7 linked regions of the Homo sapiens genome follow. The protein of the gene in region 3 interacts with the protein of the main gene of each other region in a biochemical or structural test. Each region holds a gene or a part of one and is shown on either strand. Other genes may lie near its edges.

What was found.
Region 1: the proteins of CHD3 (region 3) and GIT1 form a complex in vitro, tested with the Homo sapiens proteins (one study listed by BioGRID).
Region 2: the proteins of CHD3 (region 3) and SERBP1 form a complex in vitro, tested with the Homo sapiens proteins (one study listed by BioGRID).
Region 4: the proteins of CHD3 (region 3) and PRPF40A form a complex in vitro, tested with the Homo sapiens proteins (one study listed by BioGRID).
Region 5: the proteins of CHD3 (region 3) and SUMO1 form a complex in vitro, tested with the Homo sapiens proteins (one study listed by BioGRID and IntAct).
Region 6: the proteins of CHD3 (region 3) and PEX14 interact in a surface display test, tested with the Homo sapiens proteins (one large-scale study listed by IntAct).
Region 7: the proteins of CHD3 (region 3) and HABP4 form a complex in vitro, tested with the Homo sapiens proteins (one study listed by BioGRID).

The regions. Positions count from the first base shown.
Region 1 is NC_000017.11:29,572,975-29,576,311, forward strand, and holds the end of GIT1 (ARF GTPase-activating protein GIT1), read right to left. Parts: coding exon 3,246-3,337; intron 3,158-3,245; coding exon 3,104-3,157; intron 2,925-3,103; coding exon 2,838-2,924; intron 2,730-2,837; coding exon 2,656-2,729; intron 2,497-2,655; coding exon 2,314-2,496; intron 2,169-2,313; coding exon 2,105-2,168; intron 1,962-2,104; coding exon of another isoform or gene 1,941-1,961; coding exon 1,728-1,940; 3' UTR 501-1,727; downstream 1-500. UniProt on the Homo sapiens protein: GTPase-activating protein for ADP ribosylation factor family members, including ARF1.
Region 2 is NC_000001.11:67,416,903-67,420,402, forward strand, and holds part of SERBP1 (SERPINE1 mRNA-binding protein 1), read right to left. Parts: intron 3,285-3,500; coding exon 3,107-3,284; intron 1-3,106. UniProt on the Homo sapiens protein: Ribosome-binding protein that promotes ribosome hibernation, a process during which ribosomes are stabilized in an inactive state and preserved from proteasomal degradation.
Region 3 is NC_000017.11:7,905,789-7,909,288, reverse strand, and holds part of CHD3 (chromodomain-helicase-DNA-binding protein 3), read right to left. Parts: intron 3,434-3,500; coding exon 3,300-3,433; intron 3,167-3,299; exon of another isoform or gene 3,029-3,166; intron 2,737-3,028; coding exon 2,592-2,736; intron 2,421-2,591; coding exon 2,258-2,420; intron 2,164-2,257; coding exon 2,042-2,163; intron 1,937-2,041; coding exon 1,801-1,936; intron 1,689-1,800; coding exon 1,587-1,688; intron 1,399-1,586; coding exon of another isoform or gene 1,396-1,398; coding exon 1,270-1,395; intron 888-1,269; coding exon 779-887; intron 593-778; coding exon 460-592; intron 147-459; coding exon 1-146.
Region 4 is NC_000002.12:152,654,962-152,658,461, forward strand, and holds part of PRPF40A (pre-mRNA-processing factor 40 homolog A), read right to left. Parts: intron 3,060-3,500; coding exon 2,928-3,059; intron 2,181-2,927; coding exon of another isoform or gene 2,163-2,180; exon of another isoform or gene 1,438-2,162; coding exon 1,345-1,437; 3' UTR 1-1,344.
Region 5 is NC_000002.12:202,232,098-202,235,597, reverse strand, and holds part of SUMO1 (small ubiquitin-related modifier 1 isoform a precursor), read left to right. Parts: intron 1-3,500. UniProt on the Homo sapiens protein: Ubiquitin-like protein that can be covalently attached to proteins as a monomer or a lysine-linked polymer.
Region 6 is NC_000001.11:10,477,950-10,481,449, reverse strand, and holds part of PEX14 (peroxisomal membrane protein PEX14), read right to left. Parts: intron 1-3,500. UniProt on the Homo sapiens protein: Component of the PEX13-PEX14 docking complex, a translocon channel that specifically mediates the import of peroxisomal cargo proteins bound to PEX5 receptor.
Region 7 is NC_000009.12:96,456,669-96,460,168, reverse strand, and holds part of HABP4 (intracellular hyaluronan-binding protein 4), read right to left. Parts: intron 1,791-3,500; coding exon 1,628-1,790; intron 1-1,627. UniProt on the Homo sapiens protein: Ribosome-binding protein that promotes ribosome hibernation, a process during which ribosomes are stabilized in an inactive state and preserved from proteasomal degradation.

The sequences.
Region 1 (3,337 bases), about 22 Mb from region 3:
CCGCGACCTCTGCCACGTGGACCGCGCGCGGGGCGCTCCCTGGTGGCGATGGCGCGGCACTGGCCGAGCACTGCGGGGGCTTTCCTCCTTGTTGGTTGCTGAGTGGGCGGCCAAGGGGAGAAAAGGAGCCGCTTCTGCCTCCCTTGCCAAAACTCCGTTTCTAATTAAATTATTTTTAGTAGACTCTGGAGTTGAGCTTGTGCATCTGCCGCACAGAGACTCCCACCCGGACCCTCGTCCTAGGCCATGGAGGTGGTGTTTGAGGCAGCCCGCCCCCGCTGGCCAACCTGTCCCTGGACATGGGGCTTTAGGAATGTGCTCGTGGGAGGGTGGCGTTATCGTCATACATGTTAGCTTTGTTATTCGCAAACTAACTCTTCCACTAGACAGACGTTCCCAGCACAGGGGCTTCCCTAGGGCGGGGGTCCTGGGGCACTTGCAGTCACCCTTCATGTCTGCCACCTCCCTCCAGCCCCCATTCTCTAAGCATCAGAAACAGCTCATGGTCACTTCTTTATTTTTGATACAAATGTACATGACACGTCTTGACAGCCCACCCACCACCACACAGGTAGGGCCTGGCCCCCAGGGAAGAAGCGGGATGGGGAGAGAGCTGGTGGGTCCCACCGTCTGCCTCTCCAGCCTTCCCAGGCTGCAGCCAGGTTCCCAGGCCTCCAGAGGGTGGGACCACAGCAGGTGCAGGTAGTGATGGTGGGTGCTGGCCTTGCAGAGGTTACGGGGAGGGGACTCAGCTCCACAGCCACCAGCTGAGTCGGGGACCCCGGGGAGCCAGCCCCAGGCTCAGGTGCTCAGTCCTCCACCCTAGCCAGCACACATTCCCCCTCCACGCAGGAGCAGGAGGAGATGGAGGGAAGTGGTTTTTGATTTAAGTTCATAGAGAAGGGGCGAGAGTGGGGAGGGATCAGGGAGGCAGCTGGCAGGACCAAAACTGGCTACCCGGACAGTCCCTGGCTCCAGGTGGGGAAGGGAAGCTGATCCCCATGCTGGTCCCACTGCTCTGGTCCCCTCACCCCTCAAAACTCCAGATGGACCAGGCCTCCGGAACGGCACTGCCGCCCACACACTCAACACGCAGGCACGCGGGGGCACTCAGTTACCACAAAGTTAAAATTAAGGGGTGGGGAAGAAGAAAGAAAAAAAAAAAACAGACTTTCCAGTGTTTGCTGCTGGGGACCCCAGCACACAGGTTGGGGCCTGTGCCCTAGGCAGGGGCCATATGGCATTAAAGGGAGAGCAGCAAGGGGCTGGTGGCTACAGGGCAGGGACATCCATGGAGACTATGTACAAAGGAGGGGATGCCCCCGCTCAGCCCCCAGTAGGGCTGAACTGGCTCATGGGGGTGGGGCGCATGTACGGAGAGCTGCCCCACTTGGAGTGTCCCCACCTGCCCCTTTGCTGAGGGTGCCCTAGAAGGCGAGGGGCTGGGAGTGATGCCTTGCAGGCCCCTGCTCACTAGGAGGGGGGAGATGCTATATACAGAGGGGAGGTGCATGGAATGTGGGGGACAGAAGCTCCTGCCCCCCCACCTCCCCATCCTTAGGGGCTCGACAGGGGTGGGCACCAGGGCACCTGGCTGCCAGGGAGTGTGGCAGCACTAAGGGCACTTGTGCCAGTGGCTCTGTTGGGGTGGGGATTAATGTCTGGAGTGGCCCAGCTCCTATGGCCAGTGAGGTCCTAGGGTGCAGGTGAGGGTGTGGGGAGAGAGGTCACTGCTTCTTCTCTCGGGTGGTGATGGTGACCAGCTGCTTGGCAGCCTTGGCGATGTCATAGGCGCACTGGATCACCTGCTGAGTCAGCAGCTGGAAGTCCACTGGGGCGCCGGGCTCTGGGGGCACTGTCTTCCGGCACTCACTCTGCAGCCGGTAGGCGCTGGCGTTGAGCAGCCGCAGTGAGCTCCGCACTGGCTCCAGGGCTGGCCTCTGGAGGGGGCAGGAGTGAGGCTGGACCTTGGACTTTAAGCCACCAGCTGAGATCAGGGCCCAGTTTGTCTGTGTCTCCACCCAGGTAGCGATCAGATGGGATTCTCCACGCCTGCCCCAGCTCGAGGCCCTCCCACTCCTGGTCCTCTCTTTGGCCCCTGTACCTTTGGGAAGAGGGAGGCCATCTCGGTCACAGCCAAATGGATCTTCTCTGAGCAGGGCACGAAGCTGCGGGGAGAAGGGAGGCTATAAAGCAGGGGGCTCTCAAGGGAGGTTCCCAGGGACAGCAGAACCCAGGGCCCCTCATGCTCTCTGCAACACCCTAGAAGCCAACAGGAACTGCATCCCCCTCACCTCCCCCTCCACTCAGTACCTGTCATGCTTGAACTCCTGGGCTGCCCGCAACAGTTCCTGAATGTTCTTGGTGACCTGCTCTGTCTTCAAGATGACATCCTCTGTGCTGGGAAGCCCAGGATCTAGGTCTCCATCCAGGCTTTCCAGCTCTGGGTGGAAGTCTTCCTCTTTGCCCAGCTCTAGAAACCTCTTCCCTTCCAGCCTGAGGCCCAGGTCCAGAAAACAGAGACAAAGATACATATAGAGAAAGACACGTTCCAGCCTCGGAGCCGCCCGCCTTGGTCCTCACACACTGGGGGCCCTCTCAACCTCCCCGCCTCGGCATGTGAGCAGGCTGGACTGGAGACCCAGGGAGCCTCACCCCAGCAGTGGGTCCCCACTTTGCGTGTTCTCATAGTCACTGTCGGCTCCACTGCCGTGGCGGGAAAGCTTGCTCTGGAGGGCGGAGGGAAGGGGCTGTGAGCGCCGTGTTCCTGGACCCACACTGCCCCTAGCCCACACGGCCCCCAGCCACCCTGTGGGCACTGGGCATGGAAACATTACCGTGTGGCGGCTTCCCTCCTGGGAGCAGGACAGCAGCGGGGAGGAGGGAGTGAAGGGCACAGCTGAGGCAGACACCCCTTTCCGGATCTGAAACCCAGGGCAGCGCTGGATGGAGTCAGTGTGCCCCACTGCCCCCCTGCTCACCAGCAGTGCAGCAGGGACCAGGTCAGTCTAATCATCTTAAGCCCCGAATTCAGCACAGAGCCCAGAACCCCCTGGGGCTCAGAACCTACTGGCTAAGATGGACACGCCTTCCCCAGGCTTACCCGGTAAAGGCCAGCAGGGACGTGCACTGAATAGATGGCGTCGTCCTCTAGCTCCTGGGGATGTTAGCACAGCGAGCGTCATGGTGGACCCTGCGGCAGCCCCACCCATCTCCCCACACCTTGAGACCCATAGGTGACTCACAGTGCTGTGGAAAGGCTGCAGCCGCGTAGTGAGCTCGTCCCCAGGGGGGCCCCCAAAGGGCTTCAGGGCAGAGCCAGGTTCATACATGGAAA
Region 2 (3,500 bases), on a different chromosome or scaffold from region 3:
TTCAATTTATTGCAAACCACAGATCGAAAATATTCAGAAAAAAATAAAACCAACCAACCATATAACAATAAAAAGTAGGCCAGGTGTGGTGGCTGACACTTGTAATCCCAGCACTCTGGGAGGCATAGGCAGAAGGGCTGCTTGAGTCCAGGAGTTGGCACAGGTGTGTAGTTCCAGCTACTCAGGAGGCTGAGCTAGAAGGATCGCTTGAGCACGGGGAGGTTGAGGCTGCAGTAAGCTGTGACCATGCTACTGCATTCCAGCCTACATGACAGAGCAAGACCTTGTCTCAAAATAAAGTGTATGAGGGAGTGCTCACTTTGGCAGCATATATACTAAAAGTGGAACAATACAAAGATTATTAGCATGATCCCCACAAGGATGACACGCAAAACTGTAAATTGTTCTATATTTTAAATTAAAAAATAGAAACAATAAAAAATAAAGTATAGGGAAAACGTGTTTAGGCTATATGCAGATACTATGCCATTTTATATAATGGACATGAGCATCTGAAAATTTTAATATCTCTGGGTCCTGGAACGAATCCCCTGCAGATACCAAGAAACTGTACTGGGATAAAGTCAGGGCAGGGGGATCCTTTTTTTTTTTCTTTTTTCCTTTTTTTGAAACAGTCTTGCTCTGTCAACTAGGTTGGAATGCAGTGATGCTATCTTGGCTCACTGCAACCTCTGCCTCCTGGGCTCAAGTGATCCTCTCCCGCCTCAGCCTCCCAGGTAACTGAGACCACAGGTGCACGCAACCACATCCAGATAATTTTTATATTTTTTGTAGAAACAGGGTTTTGCCATGTTACCCAGGCTGGTCTCAAACTTTTAACTCAACAATCTGCCCACCTCAGCCTCCCGAAGTGCTGGGATTACAGGTGTAAGCCACTGTGTCCGACCTTTTTTCTAGAGCACTCAGACAATGAGGAGCAGAAAACAGAAACTCTGAGCTCTGTCAATAACACGGTAACACAGTTCTCCATTTGTAAATAGTTTCTTCCTTCCCCTTAACTACCTCACATTTGTCACGAGAATGAAGACATGTGAAAGTTAAAGTGTTGTTTTTTTTTTTTTTTTTTTTTTTTGAGACAGTCTTGCTCTGTTGCCCAGGCTGGAGTGCAGTGGTGTGATCTCAGCTCACTGCAACCTCTGCCTCCTGTGTTAAAGTGATTCTCCTGCCTCAGCCTCCTGAGTAGCTGGGATTACAGGCATGCACCACCACACCAGGCTAATTTTGTATCTTTAGTAGAGACGGGGTTTCTCCATGTTGGTCAGACTGGTCTTGAACTCCCGACCTCAGGTGATCCGCCCGCCTCAGTCTCCCAAAAGTGCTGGGATTACAGGTGTGAGCCACTGCGCCTGGCTGAAACCACGTGTTCTAATGCAGTTTTTTTTCTACAGGACTTAAAAAAGACAATGTCCTCATTTACTACTCATATGAAGTAAATGTTAAAAATCATCTCTAAACCTAAAAAAACTTTTAATCTTTTTAACCTCCATTTTATTTTAAAATGTTTCCAAGTTTGTCTTATAGCCATTTTGCAGTTTAAAAAATTATGCTTATTGGCTGGGCATGGTGGCACACGCCTATAATCCCAGCACTTTGGGAGGCTGAGGCAGGCGGGGATCACTGAGGCCAGGAGTTTGAGACCAGCCTGGCCAACATGATGAAACCTCATCTCTACTAAAAACACAAACATTATCCGGGCATGGTGGCGAGTGTCCGTAATCCCAGCTACTGAGGAGGTTGAGACACAAGAACTGTTTGAATCCGGGAGGTGGAGGTTGCGGTAAGCAGAGATGGTGCCACTGCATTCCAGCCTGGGCGACAGAGCCAGATTCTGTCTCAAAAAAAAAAAATAAAAATAACTAATACCTTATTGAAAGGGTTTGCCCTCACAATATTTTAATTTAACTTTACCTTAGGATGATAAAACTCAGTCTGGATTTCTGGCACAGCCCAATTTATGATATGAATAAATCAAACACAAATGTCAAAAGGTTAAAGGAAGCTGATAGAGAAAATGAATTTAGGAGAAGAAATAATATAGTTAGGGCTTGTATGAGTTTTTAAAGCCAAACAGGAAGCCGCACTGAAACATTCCTCTAAGAACACACCCCAAAGCTTAAACGGAAGCTACCAAATCAAAAGCCATCAATGTGACTTTCTCCAATACAGTTGACCCTTGAACAACGTGGCTTTGAACATTCTGCCTCTGTCAGTCTTGAGACAAGCAAGCCCAATCCCTTTTCTTCCTATCCAAAATAAAGACCTTTGTGATGATCCAGTTCCACTTAATGAACAGTAAATATATTTTCTCAACATTTTCTTTAGCTTACTTTACTGTAAAAACACAGTATATAATACGCAACATACAAAATGTGTTAACTGGTTATGTTATCACTAAGACTTTCAGTCAACAGGTTATTAGTAGTTAAGTTTTGGGAGAGTCAAAGGTTACATGTGCATTGATCTGCGGGGTCAGTGCCCCTAGCATCCTCATGTTGTTCAACAAGTCAACTGTATTTTCACTAGTTTCCATGTTTCTTAAGTAAAACCCACATATACTTTGGTTTTTAAAGTCGTCATTCCTTAGACAAAATGCACATTGCCATTTACTGAGTGTCCTGGCCATTATATATGGTATAGGCAGACAGTTTCAAAAGTTGAATTCTAAATGAAGTCACTTACATTTTAGGTTAAACCATATGAAAATGTCAAGATTTCAACCTAACACCATAATACCACAGCCCTTTAATGATCCCCAGTTTGGCAAGATTTCAAAAATACAACCACAACTTTGAAAAGAACTATCATATTTCTGAACACCAATAACTACAAGATACTCCACTAACAGCTTTTTAGGAAAAAGTAACTCTACCACATAAAACATAATTACAAATTGATCAAAGGACTAAATTTCTTAGAATATGTGATAATACAGTTTATTTTCCTTATAAAGCAAATTATCTGCCCCAAATGATCCTATGTAAAGCTTTAACAGACAAATAACCCATGTGAAATTTTAAAACAAAAATTATAAATACAATTCAAGTCACATCTGAACATTTTCAAACACGACAAAACTTAATTTTACCTCTTCACTCTTTGATTTATGAAGAACAAATCCCTTCTTCCACTGCCCATCAGCACCTTCATTTGGTTTTCGGATATTAAATTCTACTTTTGCCCGGTCCTTATTTTGAATAGCCTTCCACTCATCCAAAGTCATCTCTTTTGGACCCTCCTCTTTTACCTCTTCAACTTCATTCTCCCTGTGAAAAGGTTTTCAAGTTTTATACCTGGTAGAGAGCTGATATTACATAAAAGTATTTTAAATTTATGATTTTAATTGAGAAAATTAACCTTGTAATCTTTTAGAGAAAGATTATTCAAGGATGAGGGTACCCTAGTTTCCTATGTAACTAAGCAACTTGGTAGAGACCAGGAATTCAGTGTTTGCTAATTAGAGACAAGTAAGGAATATGGAA
Region 3 (3,500 bases):
GAGAGGTGCTGGTGGCTCTCGGCCAGGCACTCGGCCTCGGCGAAGCGGGCGTGGAGGGCCATGGCGGGGTGCGCCGGCTCCTGCGACAGGTTCAGGTAGGCCGCCCGCCGCAGCTGCTCCTCAATCACCAGCGCCTGCTCCAGGAGCTGAGGGCACAGAGTTGGGAGGTGAAGGTAGGGCTCTGCCAGCAGTGGGTGAGGGGCTGGGGGGGCGGACATAGCAAGAGACCCACCCTGCCCTCACTGCTGGCCCAGGGCACTCCCAGCTCCAAACCGACTGCGAACCTAGCAGCAACCCTGACCCAGATCACACTCCCAAGCACAAGGTTACACTTTGGTCTTGGCCCCAGGTATCACCTCAGCCCTGAAGGTGTTAACCTTCCCTAGGTTCCAACTAGATCTGGTCTCACTTCTGACCCAAGCCCGTCTATAACCCGCTCCTTTCCTCCCTCATTCCCACCTTGAACCTCCGGGCCAGGAACTTATTTTTCATCTCCAGAAAGTTCCCCTTATTGGCTTCAGTTTTAAATGGCTCGTTGATAATGGCAAATTGAGCATCATTCTGGATGTCCTGCCACCGTGCATAGCCATGGCTACCAATGAAGGAAAAGGAACCATCAAGGAATTTAACAGGAATGGGCTTGGCTTTGAACACTTCTTCCTTTTGGCTTGACTCCCCAAAGTGTGGCACTAGCCCTGTCCCTGGGTGTGAAATCATCTTTTTTTTTTTTGCCAGCTTGAGAGAACCTTTTCCTTCTTGCATGTGTATCAAAGGATACAGGACAATCCCAGCCAGAAGCCAATAGTCATGTCTTCTGTGCCAGATCTCATTGAGTTTCCCCGAGGAAATAGCTGCCCGTTCCTCATTCTGCCACAGTGTGTGAAGCTCTGCAAAGAAGGCAGCAGACAGAAGAGGTAACAGGGTTTTGCAGACTGCACTCAGTCCAACAGACAGGTAGAGATGGAGAAACTGAATAATGAAAGGGAACTAAGGGCTCCTGAAGAGGAATGGGTAAAGGTTAGGTTTGGAACAAACTCAGTTCTAACCAGGTTCGTTAGAATTAAGAATAAAGGTGGGATTAGGGCCAGCTTTGGAGTTAAGAGGGATACTTAAGAAAGATTTAGAGCAAGGATCGGAGTCAGCATGCAACATACTTCATTGGAAGTTACTTGGAATTAAAGGTAGCAGGAAGCCTCAGGCAAAACGAGAAACCCCATGAGGATGAGCAGATCCCCTTGAGGAGCAGAAAGCAGCGAGAGTCTCCCCAACCTGTGAAGCCACCATCGGCGATATTGAACATGAACCGGGGCTTCTCTGTCTTTTCCTCTCGTCGCCCATTGGACCGTGGCTCATCTCGAGGCCCTGGTCGAAGCTCCCGGTCACCTTTTACATCTTCTGCTAGGACAGACAGGTCAAAGCTCACACCTCAGGACACCCTCCTCCCAGGTCCCAAGACTACTATCTGTACTGTACTGTACTGGCCTTTCAAACAGCTACCCGCCCAGGACCCAAGCATTCGGTTCCCCAGACTCCACCTCCCCTGATGCCCTCTGGGACCCAGGTGTCCGGTCCCTTCCACCCATTACCTCTCTTGCCCAAATCCCCTGTTTCCCCCTCCGGCCTCTCCCTGTGTTCCTGTCCATCCAACGGCTTCTCCTCCCCCCTTTCTCCTGGCGTCGACTCTGTGGCTGTGGGAGGGGGTAGGGGATAGGAAGGGAGGATGTTACCCTCATCCCCTGACCCCAGAAGAGGGAAATCCCAAATTCTAATCCCCCATCACTCCTAAGGCCATGCACCCACCTGACTTCTCTCTGTCCCCACGGTACCCAGGTTCAGGCTCCATCTCTCCAGGCACCCCTGGCACCTCATCCTCTAGAGGAATCTTCCTTGGCTCCAGCCGCTCCCCAAGTGATGGGGCTGGGCTGGGGGCATCAGCCTGGAAGAGGACAATGGGGTCAGGATGAGCCAGAGGGCTCCCAGGTACCTGGCCTCCAAGCCCCCTCCCCTCCCGCTCCACAGGGGAATCCAGGGAGCCACACACCTCTGTCTCCATCTTCTCCCCAATTCTGCTGTTCTTCTCTGGCTTTTCCTCCTGGTTTTCAGCTTCCTCCTTCTCAAGAGGTGTCCTTATGCCTTCTCCTTTCTCACTTGGAGCTGGAGTAGCTGCAGGGGAAGGCACAGTGATAAAGACAGAGATTCTCCCGCCCTGACTCCTGGCTCCCTTTCTGTCTCTCCCACCATCCTGACTTCTGATTACCAGGTTTAGAGGTGCAGGGACTGTTGGTAGCAGAAGCCTCAGGAGTGGTGGGAGACGTTTTGGTAGGAGAGGAGGCTCTGGAGGAGCGCTTAGAATCGGCGCTGGGGTCAGGCATCAGTTCCGGCATTGACCAACGCCCATTGATGTGCTCAAACTCCTGCACCTGGGGTGGCAGGGTGGGAGGGTTAGGTGTCAGCTCCAGGCGCTTACAGACAGGAAGCTCCAGTCTCCTCCGTCTCACACCAGCGCAAGCTTACAACTCAGGGACAGAGGCAGAGGAAGGACAGAGACTAGGCAGCCAGCTTGATTCTTTGGGTGACAGGAAGACTGATACCTTCTTTTTGACGAGAGACATGACTCCAATGCGGGTCAACACCTGCTGGCGACTCAGTCCCTCCCGAGGGACCCCATCGGCAAAGGTTTCAGAGCCGTCTGCCCCAGGCTCACACAGATGGCGCATGAACAAAGACACATAGGCCCTAAGGAGCATGGGAGTGGGAGGAGGGTTAGGGGAGCCACAGAAGGGGTATAGGGCAGTGAGGGAGGCGCGAGGATGACTGAGGACCCCCAAACCCCCAAATCCCCAGGTGCTCCAGGGCTCCTCCCCTGGGCCTCTCACTCTCACCATTACCAGCCCTCCAAGTCCTAACTGTCCCCCTGCGCCCCACCCCTGGGTCTTTCCCTTTGGCCTTGGTACTTAATTCCTGGGCCCCATCAGTCAGCTCTTCATCCTTTCCACCAGCTCCTCCTGCCAGGTTATTGTGGTCAAGTAAATGTGAGGCTAGGACAGCCCAGGAGAGGCTCCTTGCTTCAACGCCCCTCCCCTGGGGAGGATGCCTGGCCCCTCTACTCTAGGCTCGGCTGAGGGGAGGTGGAGTGGGCTGAGACCACCCCCCAGGAAATCGAGCCAGGAAGTATTGTATGACAGGGAGGGTGATAATCAGTTGAGTAAGGTCACATCATATGGCGGCCCCAAGGAAGAAAGGAACACCCAAAGCTCTTCCCCTTGCGTCCAACTCAGCCCTGTATCACCCACACTCACTTAAACTCCTTCTCAGTCTTGCCCCTCAGGTCCCGCACCAGCCACTGTGTGGTGAAGGCATCCTGTGGTGGCATCCCCCAGCGCATCACAGCATTGAGGAAAGCCTTCCGCTGACGGGTGTTGAAGCCCAGCACCTGAGGGTGGGAGCAAGGAGGCAATGGCGACAAATGTCTAGGGTTCTTAGGTCTTGTCCTTTCTACC
Region 4 (3,500 bases), on a different chromosome or scaffold from region 3:
ACATTAAAAGAATAACACAGATAATACCGAAGAATAGGTGCTAAAATTTACTTATTTACTTAAAAAATCTCCTGCACTGAAGGAAAATAGTATAAATTACATTACCAACCTTCAAAAGTTAGCATGTAAAGAGTATTCTGTCTTCAAACCACAGCCTCTCTAAAATAGTCTGTAAAAAATTCATAGGTGAAAAACAAATCTAGGGACCTCAAATGCACTGATTTATAATATTCTTAAATATTAAAAAAGGAAAGTAAACTAGCGGTGTGGGTAAGATGAAGCAAAATTTCAGGGATTTAGTACCTTTAAAGTGATCATACAATTTCTTTAGAGCTGAGCAGTTTAAGTAGAAATAAATACTAGTACACACTAGAAGAGAAGGTTTAATAATTGATAAAAATGTACAAAAATATTCAAATCAGAAATGCTTTAGAATGTGTACCACGAAGTCAATACTTCTCAGTGAGTAGGGAAGGCAAAATACTTCCTCAATAGCAGGGAAAAAAAAGCAAGAGAAAGACTGAATTTAGAAAAAAAAGACAACTGTTAAAGAAAATGTTTAAGTCAACTTTTTTTTTTTTTTTAGACAAGGATATTGCAACTATCACTTAAAGTCTGGTGGCACATTCTTTAGTAGGTCCTTAAGGCAATATATTTAAATTAATTTACAATTTGATTTGATGTTAAAGTTTTTTTAAACATCACCTCAAAATAGATGCTCAAAATAATGCCCTCACAATAGCCTTTGTAAAATGTATTCAGATGTTTGATAAAAAATAATGGTGGCTTTATATTACAGTAGTGCTCATTAGCACCACTATAATTAAGGGTCTACCAAGTTTCCAGCAAAACCACCTGTTTCTTAGGAGTTTCACCATAAAAGATCACATTGGCTTTAACCAGTTGGGTAGCGCACAAAAAAGCAATTTTTATCAGTTGCTGGTGCTTTTTTTGTACTACTATATTATCAAAAAATTTTTCATTAGATCTTCAAAATCCAGCTTCTATAAAGTAAATCAAATCACCTCATGACTTAGATTTTAGAACAAAGTAGAGACATCTGCAGTTATCAGTAAATTGCCACCTTTAATCCATCCTACAGTGCCCTGTGAAAGGGTCACAGAAAGACAGTTATGACTGTATGAAAATATGATTCTTGATACAGAATCAAAAGTTACTTTCAATTTCCTTTGCTTTTATAAAGTCCACGATAACAATACTTAAATGCACTTTTTTTTTCCTGTGATATAATTAAAACCCAGTGTTATTTCAGTTGAACTTAAAATAGAGTCCCTGGTCTGAATCAGACTTTAAATCATACTGTAAACATATATTTGGTATAATTTATTGATCATCATCCAGTTGCTCCAAAAGGGTTCTTCTGCGCTTTTCCAATTCCCCTTCACTCAGTTCGCTGCCAGAAGTATCCCAATTACCCTGAAAAGACATTGATTACAATTATAGTTGACATCAGTACTCAGAGGTTTACGGGCTGAGCCTTTGAAAAAAGAATCCAATATCTATATAAACTCTCTTCCAAAGAAACACATTTCACAGGGTTTAAAGACTGTGTGAATATGAAGCAATATTTCCATTTAATGGAAGCCAGGTATTCATTTCCTAGATAATACATTCCTTGCTAATTTTTTTGTTGAGACAGAGTCTTGTTCTTGTCACCCAGGCTGGAGTGCAGTGGCACGATCTCGGCTCTCTGCAACCTCTGCCTCCTGGGTTCAAGCAATTCTCCTGCCTCAGCCTCCTGAGTAGCTGGGATTACAGGTGCCTGCCACCAAGCCCGGCTCATTTTTGTATTTTTAGTAGAGATGGGGTTTTGCCATGTTGGCCAGGCTGGTCTCGACTCCTGACCTCGTGATCTGCCCACCTCGGCCTCCCAAAGGGCTAGGATCACAGGTGTGAGCCACTGCACCTGGCCTATTCCTTGCTAATTTTGTAGCTTCCCCCTGGTTCCACAAGTATTATCACAGAAACAGAAGTAGTATGCTTTAAGCATATGGATTCCTGTGCCAAATAAATACACAAGACTAATGAGCAGGACAAGATTTAGGCTGAACAAACAAAAATAATACTGCACCGTAAGACACAACCTTTGAAAAGTGGATAGTTCCCATATCGTCCTCTTTCATTCACTCCAGGGATTTCATTTAACCCACCATAAGCTGCTAGAAAGTACAAAGGAAACATTCACTCTTCACTTACGATGTGACTCAGACTCACCTGTTTCAGCTCTAAAAAAAAACCCACCCTATACCAACGAATCAGAATATCCAGAGATCCCTAATAGGGTTTTACCTACATAGTTTATGCTCTCCAGTGATGATTCATAGGCATTTACCCTTGCTAAACCCACAGCATTTGCATTATTAGGCTCTGTCATTCATATATACATATATTTGAAAAGGACTAATTATGTAATCTGTTATTGAAATACTAACTTTGGCTTATATTCTCCTCTCCTATTTATTTGCCCTTCCTCCACCCCAAATCAGTATTTCTAAAAGTTACTGGAATTGCTACCTTTTGAAACAAAGGATTTAATAACAGTGACAACTGTAGACATCTGTAGAATCCCAGATTTAGTCTCTCACTTAAAAAAAAAATTTGAAAATTAGGTAAAAAATGTCCAGTGGCACTTCTTAGTGACCATATCCTTTCTTAGTGAGTTAATAAGGCTATAGTTATGAAATGCTATATTTAAAAAATATCAAATTTAGGAGAATAAAATCTAGGATCATGCATGACCAAAAACTATGATATTGTGTGAAATGTACTTAACTGAATTTTCACTGTTTTCTTCAATGGTAGCACACCTGGAAAAAAGCCTATTCTTTCAACACCATCATGGTTTAACCACAGAATACATTTTTGCATTTTGAAAATACAGGCATGAAACAATTCTAAATACTTACAGAATCCTTTCCAGTCTTTTTCTTAGGCGATTTGTGTTTTGATTCTGATCTTTGTCTAGTTCTGTCTTTTTCACTTTCCCGATCTTTTTCTTTTTTATCCTTCTCTCGCTCAGCATCGGATTCTGGAGAGTCCTGTATGAATAGAAAATAACAGGTTAGCATTTTGATGAAGATACCATTGTTATATAGGTAATATTTAAGAACATCTATGTGTAACAGGTTATGTGCTCTTAGAGAGATGAAATAAAATGTGAATTGTTAACCTCAAGGATTTAGTAAAATTTACCCAAGATTCATGGGGACAGCTTTCCCTTGGGAAGGATAATATTCTGAAGGATAAAATACCACTCATGAGACTTACTACCACATAATAGATGTGTAGTATCTATTATGTAAATACAGACAGATACTACATTTCTCACCAACTCAATATAATATTGGTTTATATATGTACATAGTATACTGCTGTTAGCTTTAACACATAAGGCAGACAGCTGTATTAATAAAATTATTTTCTTGAAATTGCTGAGTAGGAATTATTTAAAATTTAACGTTAGTGCTTAAATGGTTATT
Region 5 (3,500 bases), on a different chromosome or scaffold from region 3:
CGAGGTCGAGGTTGCAGCAAGCCAAGATCATGCCACTGTACTTCAGCCTGGGCGATAGAGACCCTGACTCAAAACAAAGAAGACCCAGTACAAGTTCAGTGTTGAGTGCTAAAGACTTAAAAGAGTTATAAAGCTGAACCCTTAATCTTAAGAGGTTTATAAGTGAGAACAAGAATCTCCAAATCCTGTACTGTTTAATATCAGCATGAGACTAAACCACTGTCCTAAGAAGACAACCTTAATTTGAATCAAGTTATTTTAGAGTGATGTGTTTTCTGAGGCAGCTCTCAGAAGGTTATTGTCTGGTGTTAAAATAGTGAAATTGAGTAATAACAAGGTTAAAATCGGTGGACATTAAATACACACAAGACTTCAATTGCTGGGTCCTCCATTGATTAATGAAAAAATGATTGTTTTTGGAATTTGAGTGAAACACTTCTTAATGGCTGAGTAGGGTGGCTTACGCCTGTAATCCCACCACTTTGGGATCACTTGAGGCCAGGACTTTGAGACCAGCTTGGCCAACATGAGGAAAGCACGTCTTTACTAAAAATACAAAAATTAGCTGGGCCTGGTGGCTCATGCCTGTAATCCCAGCTACTTGGGAGTCTGAGGCGAGAGGATCGCTTGAGCTTGGGAGGTGGAGGTTGCAGTGAGCGGAGATCATGCCACTGCATTCCAGCCTGGGCGACAGAGCAAGACTCTGTCCCAAAAAAAAAAAAAAAAAAAAAAGAAAAGGAAAAAAAACAAAAAACTTTTTTTTTTTTTTTTTTTTGAGACGGAGTCACAAAAAATTAGCCACCATGCCCAGCTAATTTTTTTGTATTTTTGGTAGAGACAGGGTTTCACCATATTGGCCAGGCTGTCTCGAACTCCTGACCTTGTGATCCGCCCGCCTCGGCCTCCCAAAGTGCTGGGATTACAGGCGTGAGGTGCCGTGCCTGGCAAAAAAAAAAAAAACACAAAAAAACCCACTTCTTTATAATTTTAACAATTCCAACATCATCTAGTAGATTTGTGTACCATTATTAAATAATCCTTTAAAATAAGTTCTAAACCTAAGGCCCATAGACCATAAAGACTGAAAGTTCGCTTACATTGTATGGAGTGTTTTGTGAGTATTTGTGCATACGTATTTTTTTTTTTTTAAGATAGAGCATTGCTCAATTGCCCAGGCTGGAGTACAGTGTGGTGTGATCTCGGTTACTGCAACCTCTGCCTCCTGGGTTCAAGTGATTCTCCTGCCTCAGCCTCCCTAGTAGCTGGGATTATAGACACATGACACCATACCTGGCTAATTTTTGTATTTTTTGTAGAGATGGGGTTTCATCAGGCTGGTCTCGAACTCCTGACCTCAGGTGATCTGCCCGTCTTGGCCTCCCAAAGTGCTGGGTTTACAGACGTGAGCCCAGCCATATATATATATTTTTTTTAAATAGGAGAAAGGACCCATAGTCTCATCAGGGGTACGTGATTCCTCAAAATGGTTAAGGACCATCCTTTAACCAGTAACAGAAATCTGATTGGGTGCTTTCCTTTAGCCCAGTCTCACCTTGTAGCAAAACAAAGTGCTCGTACAGAACCCGAAGCTTAATATCAAAAGGATAAGGGTAATTTGTACAAATATTTTCCCCTTCCTCCTTTCTGATATTTGAGTTTATAGTGTTTCTTTTTTATACCAAAATCATTAAAGGTAGCTTGGTCAGCTCTTCAATTCAAGTCTGTTAATTGTAGCAATTGGATGACTGTTCCACTCTAACTGAATCTGTATTAACACCCCCAAAGAGAGATTGAATGATTTCCTTTTATCTTTAGTCAAGGATTTGGAAGCATTGTGTAATTCTGATTATCTGATACATTACCTCAAAATTTTGTGACTTAAAACAACAGCCATTTATTTTGTTTATAAATCTGCAATTTGGACAGGGCTCTGTGGATTAGACTCACCTCTGCTTCTTGGTGTGTGGGGCCTCAGCTGAGATGACTCAAGTGGCTGGGGGCTGGAACAGCTAGTTGTCAGGTGAGATGAGACTGGATGGGGCAAGTGTCTCCATATAGTCTCAGAGCCTTTCTTAGTGGTTTCATCATGTGATGTCAGCATGGAGACCCCAGGGTATTCAGACTTACGGCTCAGGGATCACAGAGAGAATAGGTGTTCCAAGAGAACCTGGGTGGAAATAGCAAGTCTCCTACAACCTAGCCTTGGAAGTCACGTCTGTAATTCTGTTGCCCACTCAAATCACTAAGGTCAGCCAGATTCAAGGGAAAGGCATTTATTTAGACACTGTTTCTCAATGGGAGAGTAACAAAGAATTTGCAGTTATCTTTAATCTACATTAATTGTATTTTTGCTGCCATGATAGTATTATTCCCTGCAGTGTTCTATATAGCTCCCTGCTATTGATTTTTACTGATTTTAGAAATTCTTTGCTTGAGATAGCAGGAGAATATGATGAACTGGTTGTGTATTAAAATTCATAATTGTGTGTACTACTATTTATATCATAGAATAGATATGTTAAACTGTAGTTATTACTTGAGTATGTAGTTAAGCATTTCATGCCCTAGGAGAAGAAGAATACTGTGTCCGCTCTGATAGACATGAGGTCCTGCTAGTGGATGTTACAAATGTATAGATTGTAGCATTATCTAAACAAACTTTACTAGTAGTTTAAAAATTGAATATGAATGTTATGATTACTCATTAAGATTTAGTAGTTCAGATTTAAAAACTATTAAGTAGTTGTCAACTCATGACATCCTTTAGTCCCGAAGGCAGTTAGGGTATCTCTTTCATAATTTTTACATGTAATGTTACAGTTATTTACGTTCCTTTTTTTTTTTTTTTTTTGAGATGGAGTCTTGCTCTGTGGCCCAGGCTGGAGTGCAGTGGCATGATCTCGGCTCACTGCAACCTCTGCCTCCTGGTTCAAGTGATTCTCCTGCCTCAGCGCCTCGAGTAGCTGGGATTACAGATGTGTGTCACCACGCCTGGCTAGTTTTTATATTTTTAGTAGTGATGGGCTTTCCCCATGTTGGCCAGGTTGGTCTTGAACTCCTGACTTCAAGTCATCCACCTGCCTCGGCCTCCCAGAGTGCTGGGATTACAGGTGTGAGCCACCGCGTTGCCAGTTATTTACATTCTAAGTGTCTTTTCTCCATTACATCAGGCTTTATTTATCCTCTTTTTCCTGTAATGCTTAGCACATTGAGTGGATAATTAGTAAAAAATTTTTTAAAGGAGAGTGGCCAGATTCATTCAACAAATGTTTATTAAATGTCACAATGTTCACAGCATGATTCTAGGCCCTAGAATTGGAAGGTCGCCTCAAAAACATGAAACAGCAGGTACCTTCCTCCTCCTCTTTCAGTCCTCTTGATGTTGTTTTGTTATTGAGGCAGGGCTGGTTGCCATGGAATAGTTTTTCTCTTATGATATTTTTGCATACCTTCTTCATCTTTACTTCTGTTAGCAATAGACCTGGTAACTATATCCAAAG
Region 6 (3,500 bases), on a different chromosome or scaffold from region 3:
CAAACAAACAAACAAAGTTTAAGGCTGGACGCGGTGGCTCCCAGCACTGTGGGAGGCCGAGGTGGGTGGATCACTTGAGGTCAGGGGTTCGAGACCATCCCGGCCAACATGGCAAAACCCTGTCTCTATTAAAAATACAAAAAAATTAGCCAGGCATGGTGGCGGGCACCTGTAATTCCAGCTACTTGGGAAGCTGAGACAGGAGAATTGCTTGAACCCAGGAAGCGGAGGTTGTAGTGAGCCAAGATTGCACCACTGCACTCCAGCCTGGGCAACAGAGCAAGACTCTGTCTCAAACAAAAAAAAAAAGGAAGGAAAGGAAAAAAAAAAAAGACTAAAGAGACAAATCAATGCAATCTCTGTTTCTTCACTAGATTCTGATTTTTTTTAAGTGTGAAAATTTGAGTGCAGATTCTGTTTTAAATAATACTATTTATCAACACTTAAATTTCTTGTGTGATAATGATATTGTGGTTATACAGGGGAATAACCTTACTCTTATGAGAGATAAGGTGAAATATTCTAGGATGAAATATCCTTGATGTCTGTAACTTACCACAAATCCTTCCAAAAAAAAAAATATATATATAGAGAGAGAGAGAGAGAGAAAGAGAGAGAGAGACTGACATAAAGCAAATTCAGCAAAATGTGAACAGTGCATCTTGGTTAAGTTTTTATGGGAATTTTACAGAAGTTCTCAGTATTATCCTTTCAACTTTTCTATACGTGAGAAATTTTTCAAAATAAAAAGTTGAGGCCAGGTGCCAGGCTCACACCTGTAATCCCAACACTGTGGGAGGCCGAGGCAGGTGGATCACCTGAGGTCAAGCATTCAAGACTAGCCTGGCCAACATGGCAAAACCCCATCTCTACTAAAAATACAAAAAAATTAGCTGGGCATGGTGGCGGGCACCTGTAGTCCCAGCTACTCAGGAGGCTGAGACAGGAGAATCGCTTGAACCCAGGAGGCAGAGGTTGCAGTGAGCCGAGATTGTGCCACTGTACTCCAGATCGGGAGACAGAGCAAGACTCCGTCTCAAAAAAAAAAAAAAAAAAAAAAAAGTTAGCCAGGCGTAGTGGCACACACCTGTAGTCTCAGCTACTCAGGAGGCTGAGGCAGGTGAAGCAGGAGAACCGCTTGAACCTGGGAGGCTGAGGTTGCAGTGAGCCGAGATTGAGCCACTGTACTCCAGCCTGGGCAACAGAGGGAGACTCCATCTCAAAAACAAAACAAAACAAAAAAAAAAAACATTGAGAGGGCAAATACCTTGTCTGACCTGCTGTTATTCAAGAGTTCAACAGACTCTCAAAACTACATGTAAAGACTGGGAGAAGAAAACTAACTCTGAGCACTTACTATGCAGCAGGTGCTCTTCACATCTGTGATTTCAGTCAACACTAAAAGGGTAATTATTTTTTATTTTATTTATTTATTTTTTAAGTGATAGGGTTGCACTCTGTTGCCCAGGCTGGAGTACAGGGGTTTATTCACATATGTGATCATCGTGCACTACAGACTCCAACTCCTGGGCTCAAGCAATCCTCCAGCCTCAGTCTCCTGAGTAGCTGGAACTACAGACATGCACCACCACACCCAGCTTTAAGGGTAACTATTATTGCTCTCGTTTTACAGAGGAGAAAACATACTCAGAAAGGTGGAGTGATAAGTCCAATAGTTGTGAGTGATGAAGTTCCACCAAAACCTGCCAGGATGCGAAGCCATGCTCTTCCACTCTTTCACTCTGCTCTTCTCCCTGCCTGCTTCTGTAGCCTCTCAATGCAAAATTTACTGTACCCAGTGAACCTCCACAGATAGGAAATCTACCTTCTGCAATAATACTCGATACTCAGTAACTGTGAAGTAATCAGATTGAACCATGCCTCTGCTGTTCAGCGAAGGAAGAAAAGCTAGTAGGAAAGTTGGGAAATAGAGATAACGTTTCTCATTCCTACGGGCTCCAACGTGTACACACTAGAAAGGACTTCAATGAGAGATCAGCCATGCTGGCTGGGCGTGGTGGCTCATGCTTATAATCTCAGCACTTTCTCTCTCTCTGTCTCTTCCCCCGTCCCCAAACAGGGTATTGCTCTCTCACCCAGGCTGGAGGGCAATGGCACAATCACCGCTCACTGCAGCCTCAACCTCCCAGGCCCAAGTGATGCTCTCACCTCAGCCTCCAAAGTAGCTGGAACCACAGGCAAGCACTACCATGCCTGGCTAATTTTTTAATTTTCAGTAGGAACGAGGTCTCCCTATATTGCAAAGGCTGGTCTCAAACTCCTGGCCTCAAGCGATCCTCCCAACTCAGCCTCCCAAAGTGCTAAGATTACAGGTATGAGCCATCACGCCCAGCCAGGAACTCACCACTACAAAAATTGTTTTAAAAATACATTAGCCAGGCCAGGCACAGTGGCTCACACCTGTAATCCCAGCACTTTGGGAGGCCGAGGTGGGCGGATCACGAGGTCAGGAGATCGAGACCATCCTGGCTAATACGGTGAAACATCGTCTCTACTAAAAATGAAATAAAAAAAAAATAGCCGGGCGTGGTGGCAGGTGCCTGTAGTCCCAGCTACTCTGGAGGCTGAGGCAGGAGAATGGTTCGAACCCGAGAGGCGGAGCTTGCAGTGAGTTGAGATCGCACCACTGCACTCCAGCCTGGGCGACAGAGCGAGACTCTGTCTCAAAAAAAAAAAAAATACATTAGCCAGGCATGGTGGTGCACACCTGTAGTCCCGGTTACTCAGGAGGCTGAGACGAAAGGATTGCCTGAGCCTGGGCGGGCAAGGATGCAGTGAGCCATGATCACACCACCGCACTCTGGTGACAGAGTGAGACCCTGTCTCAATCAATAGATCAACCACATAAAACAGAGCAATGTGGGGAACACAGAACAAAGGAAGCAATAAATGAAATTCCAGCAAGTCGTCTTGAGGATAGACTAAAAAGACTATACCATTATGAAAAAGTAAGTATGTTCCTGAAATGCAAAAGTCATGAAGGACAGCTAGAATAAACACTAGCATTCAGGGCATTCCTTGAAATTTTAAGGAATTACTTCTGAATAAAAGAACTTTACTAGACAAGTAGTCAACACATGAAAAATCATACCCCAAAAGATGTCGTAATAGAACTTGAAGAAAGGTTTAGATCCATTTGTGAGTGAAAACTCAGAGCTTATTAAATTGAATAATAATAATAATAGACAACACATTGTTTCAGGCACTGTTCTGGCATTTTTACATAAATAACTCATTTAAGGCCAGGTGCAGTGGCTCACGCCTGTAATACCAAGCTCTTTGGGAGGCCGAGGTGGGCAGGTTACCTGAGGTCAGGAGTTTGAGACCAGCTTGTCCAATATGGTGAAACCCCATTTCTACTTAAAAAAAAAAATTAGCCAGGCCTGGTGGTGCATACCTGTAGCCCCAGCTACTTGGGAGGCTGAGGCAGGAGAATCACTTGAACCTGGGAGGCGGAGGTTGCAGTAAGCCGAGATCGC
Region 7 (3,500 bases), on a different chromosome or scaffold from region 3:
CTATTTTTTCATGTCACATATAAAGATCTATTTTATCCTTTTTAAAGACTACACAGTCTTGCTACTAAAAAAGGGGGGAAACATGGGTTTGTGCAAGTGAACTATAATTTCCTCATTTCCACAGAATCCCTAAAGTGAGGGGAAAATAAATACCCAAATGCTTCCAAAAATAAGCAGCTCTGCTACAAGAAGCTTTGCAGAAACAAGGAGACTGTGCTTACTACACAGCAGATTTGAAGTAATCACCAAAAAAGGTGCAAAATTAAGGCTTTCTGTAAGTTTCTCCCTCCAACATGGTTGCAGATAGACTATCTCAATGTCTTGAATGTGTAACTTCCAGGTGAACAGTTCTGCATGAGTCATCACCTGCTCAGCCCACCCAGGCTAAGTTACTCTCTGCTGGACTTTTGTTTTGTTTTGTTTTTAATAGGCTCTATAGTATAGTTTTACAAAGCCACATTTTTTGGTTAAAACTTGTAGCCAGAATCCTAAATGGAATGGAATTAGCAGTCAAGAAGCAGAAAGAGTTTGGAAAAATGGCTCCCTTGACATATAACTGTTCACTATTCTAGTCTTCCTTAGCTTGTTTAACTTTATTTTCCTTGAAATGTGATTCACTACTTGTTTCTGTTTAACATAAACAGGTTTAATGATTAAACAAAGACTTTAAGCAGCAAGTGCCAAACATAAGACACAACCCCTCCCCGTGTTGAGGTGGAGTGCGGTGGCCACCATGCTGCCACATCACTAAGCAGCGACGCAACACTCCACCAGCCCACGACTTCTGTCCATGTTAGAGTACTTCGGAGAGCAGCCATGCCCTCCAGAAATTGGTATTACACATCATAACAGACTCTTCTTCAAATTTCATCATGGCAGCCTACTGACCTGACCGTGGAGCTAGGAATTTATTTCAATCCATTGAGCAGTCTAAATTGGTAATGTGAAATCAAAAACCATAATTATATCCCTAGTCCAAAATTATATCTCTAATCTAGAACTTCAAAAGAAAACCAGTTCAACACACTCCTGTGTAATTTCTTTTTAAGAGTGCTCTTCAGTTACCAACAAGCAATTCATTTTTAATTGTACAATCATTTCCTGAACCAAGACGTAAAGGCATCTATGAGGAAAAAGGAAGATCCTTCCCATCATCTAAGGTAACATGAATTGCACATAAATTAGTAAAACATTCCTAGGACTGGTACCACAAAAAGCAGTAGCCAGTAGAAAGTTGTATTTTCTGGGCCGGGCATGGTGGCTCACTCCTGTAATCCCAGCACTTTTGGCAGGCCAAGGCAGGTGGATCACCTGAGGTTGGGAGTTCAAGACTAGCCTGACCAACATGGAGAAACCCCGTCTCTACTAAAAATACAAAATTAGCCGGGCGTGGTGGCACATGCCTGTAATCCCAGCTACTTGGGAGGCTGAGGCAGGAGAATTGCTTGAACCCGGGAGCGGAGGTTGCAGTGAGCCGAGATCGCACCATTGCACTCCAGCCTGGGCGACAAGAGCGAAACTGTCTCAAAAAAAAAAAAAAAAGAAAGAAAGAAAAGAAAAAGAAAGTAGCATTTTCTCAAAACCTTTCTGGTTCCCCACCCGCCCTGCTGAGGACTGCAGCACATACTTTTCATCTGGAAACTTCTCAGCTGTGAAGTCTGCCTGCCTCTCTGTCTCATAGGGTCGGTATTCCCTGTAGGATCTCCGCTCAGCTCTTTCGAGCATCCCCTCCGGCCCACGGCTGTCATTCCATCCTTGCTGCTCCCCTCTTCTAGGAGTCCGCTTCTGGCCTACCAACAGAAAATCAAAGCAGAGAGCTGGAACACAACATCTGCAACAGCACACTATTAAACTTTACAGGTACTTGTAAATTTCATTTTTCTAGAAATCAACGTCATAGGAGAATTCAGGAAGTTTAGAAAACTTCAAAGAAAAAAGTTGCTGATACTACAACTGCCCACAGTCTACTTTTTAATAGGATGTTACTATTAAATCATGCTTTCCCTATATCCTAGAAAGTATATGACCAACTAAGCTCACCTATAATTACAGGCATCTCCCAATAACTGTGACAGCCATGGGTACATTTTACTAAATAAGCTACAGTTCACAAAAGCAGTCTTACAAAAACACAGTGTGTAAGCCGTACCTAGAAAATGAAAGAATACCCTATATTTCAGACTGTACTTTTAGAATCCCAACTGCACATTACATAGCAACTATGGCTTATCACTGGCTACTAAGGTTTTTGTTTTTATTTTGTATTTTTTTAATTTATTTACTTAATTACTTATTTTGAGACAGAGTCTTGCTCTGTCACCCAGCCCGAAGTGCAGTGCACTGTTTAATCTTGGCTCACTGCAATCTCCGCCTCCCAGGCTCAAGCAATTCTCATGCCTCAGCCTCCCAAGATGCTGGAATTACAGGCATGTGCCACCATGCCCAGCTAATTTTTGTATTTTTAATAGAGACAGGGTTTCACCATGTTGGCCAGGCTGGTCTCGAACTCCCAGCTTCAAGCAATTCACCCACCTCACCCTCCTGAAGCACTGGGATTACAGGCATGAGCCTCAGCGCCTGGCCAAGGTTTTTGTTTTTAAAGTTTGTAGTGCTTATATTTTTACTTTGAAAACAGATTTTCCTGCTATTCTATGAGATATATAGACTTGCAGTTATAACTTCCTGAATATGAACCAAACACTGCTATTTGGCAACTTGCCCAAGAGTCAGCCAGTACTTGAGGGCATCTCTTTTTGTCCACTCAGTCCAGCACTTGGACACTGTGCTGGGACCACAGACTCTGGTTTTGTTCTTGTGTTTTTTTTTTGAGACTGAGTTTCACTCTTGTTGCCCAGGCTGGAGTGCAATGGCCCGATCTCGGCTCACTGCAACCTCCGCCTCCCGGGTAGAGATTAGCTGGGATCACAGGCCTGCGCCACCACGCCTGGCTAATGTTGTATTTTCAGTAGAGACGACGTTTCTCTAACCTGGTCAGGCTGGTCTCCTCAGCCTCCCAAAGTGCCAGGATTACAGGCGTGAGCCACCGTGCCCGGCCGAGACTCTGGTCTTTTCCTCTGTCCTGTCACCTTGCTTTACTCCCCTTTAGTTTTAATGCTTTAAACATCTTAAGCAAAGTCTATGTTTGAAGCCATCTAATACTTGGTAAATACATTGTGGAGAACTTTGTCACATCTTTAATCTTCAAAAAAAGTCTATCTTTTTTTATATACATTTAAAAGATCTCCTCTCACTATGTGCAATATTTACTATAGTGGCTTCAATTTTTCTTGGTACAAATTACTCTCCACATTAGTTGTATAGCTATGACATTTATTCAAGTTAATGGATATATATATATATATATATATATATATATATATATATATATTTTTTTTTTTTTTTTTTTTTTGAGATGGAGTCTTGCTCTGTTGCCCAGGCTGGAGTACAGCGGCGCCATCTCGGCTCACTGCAAGCACCGCCTCCCGGGTTCACGCCATTCT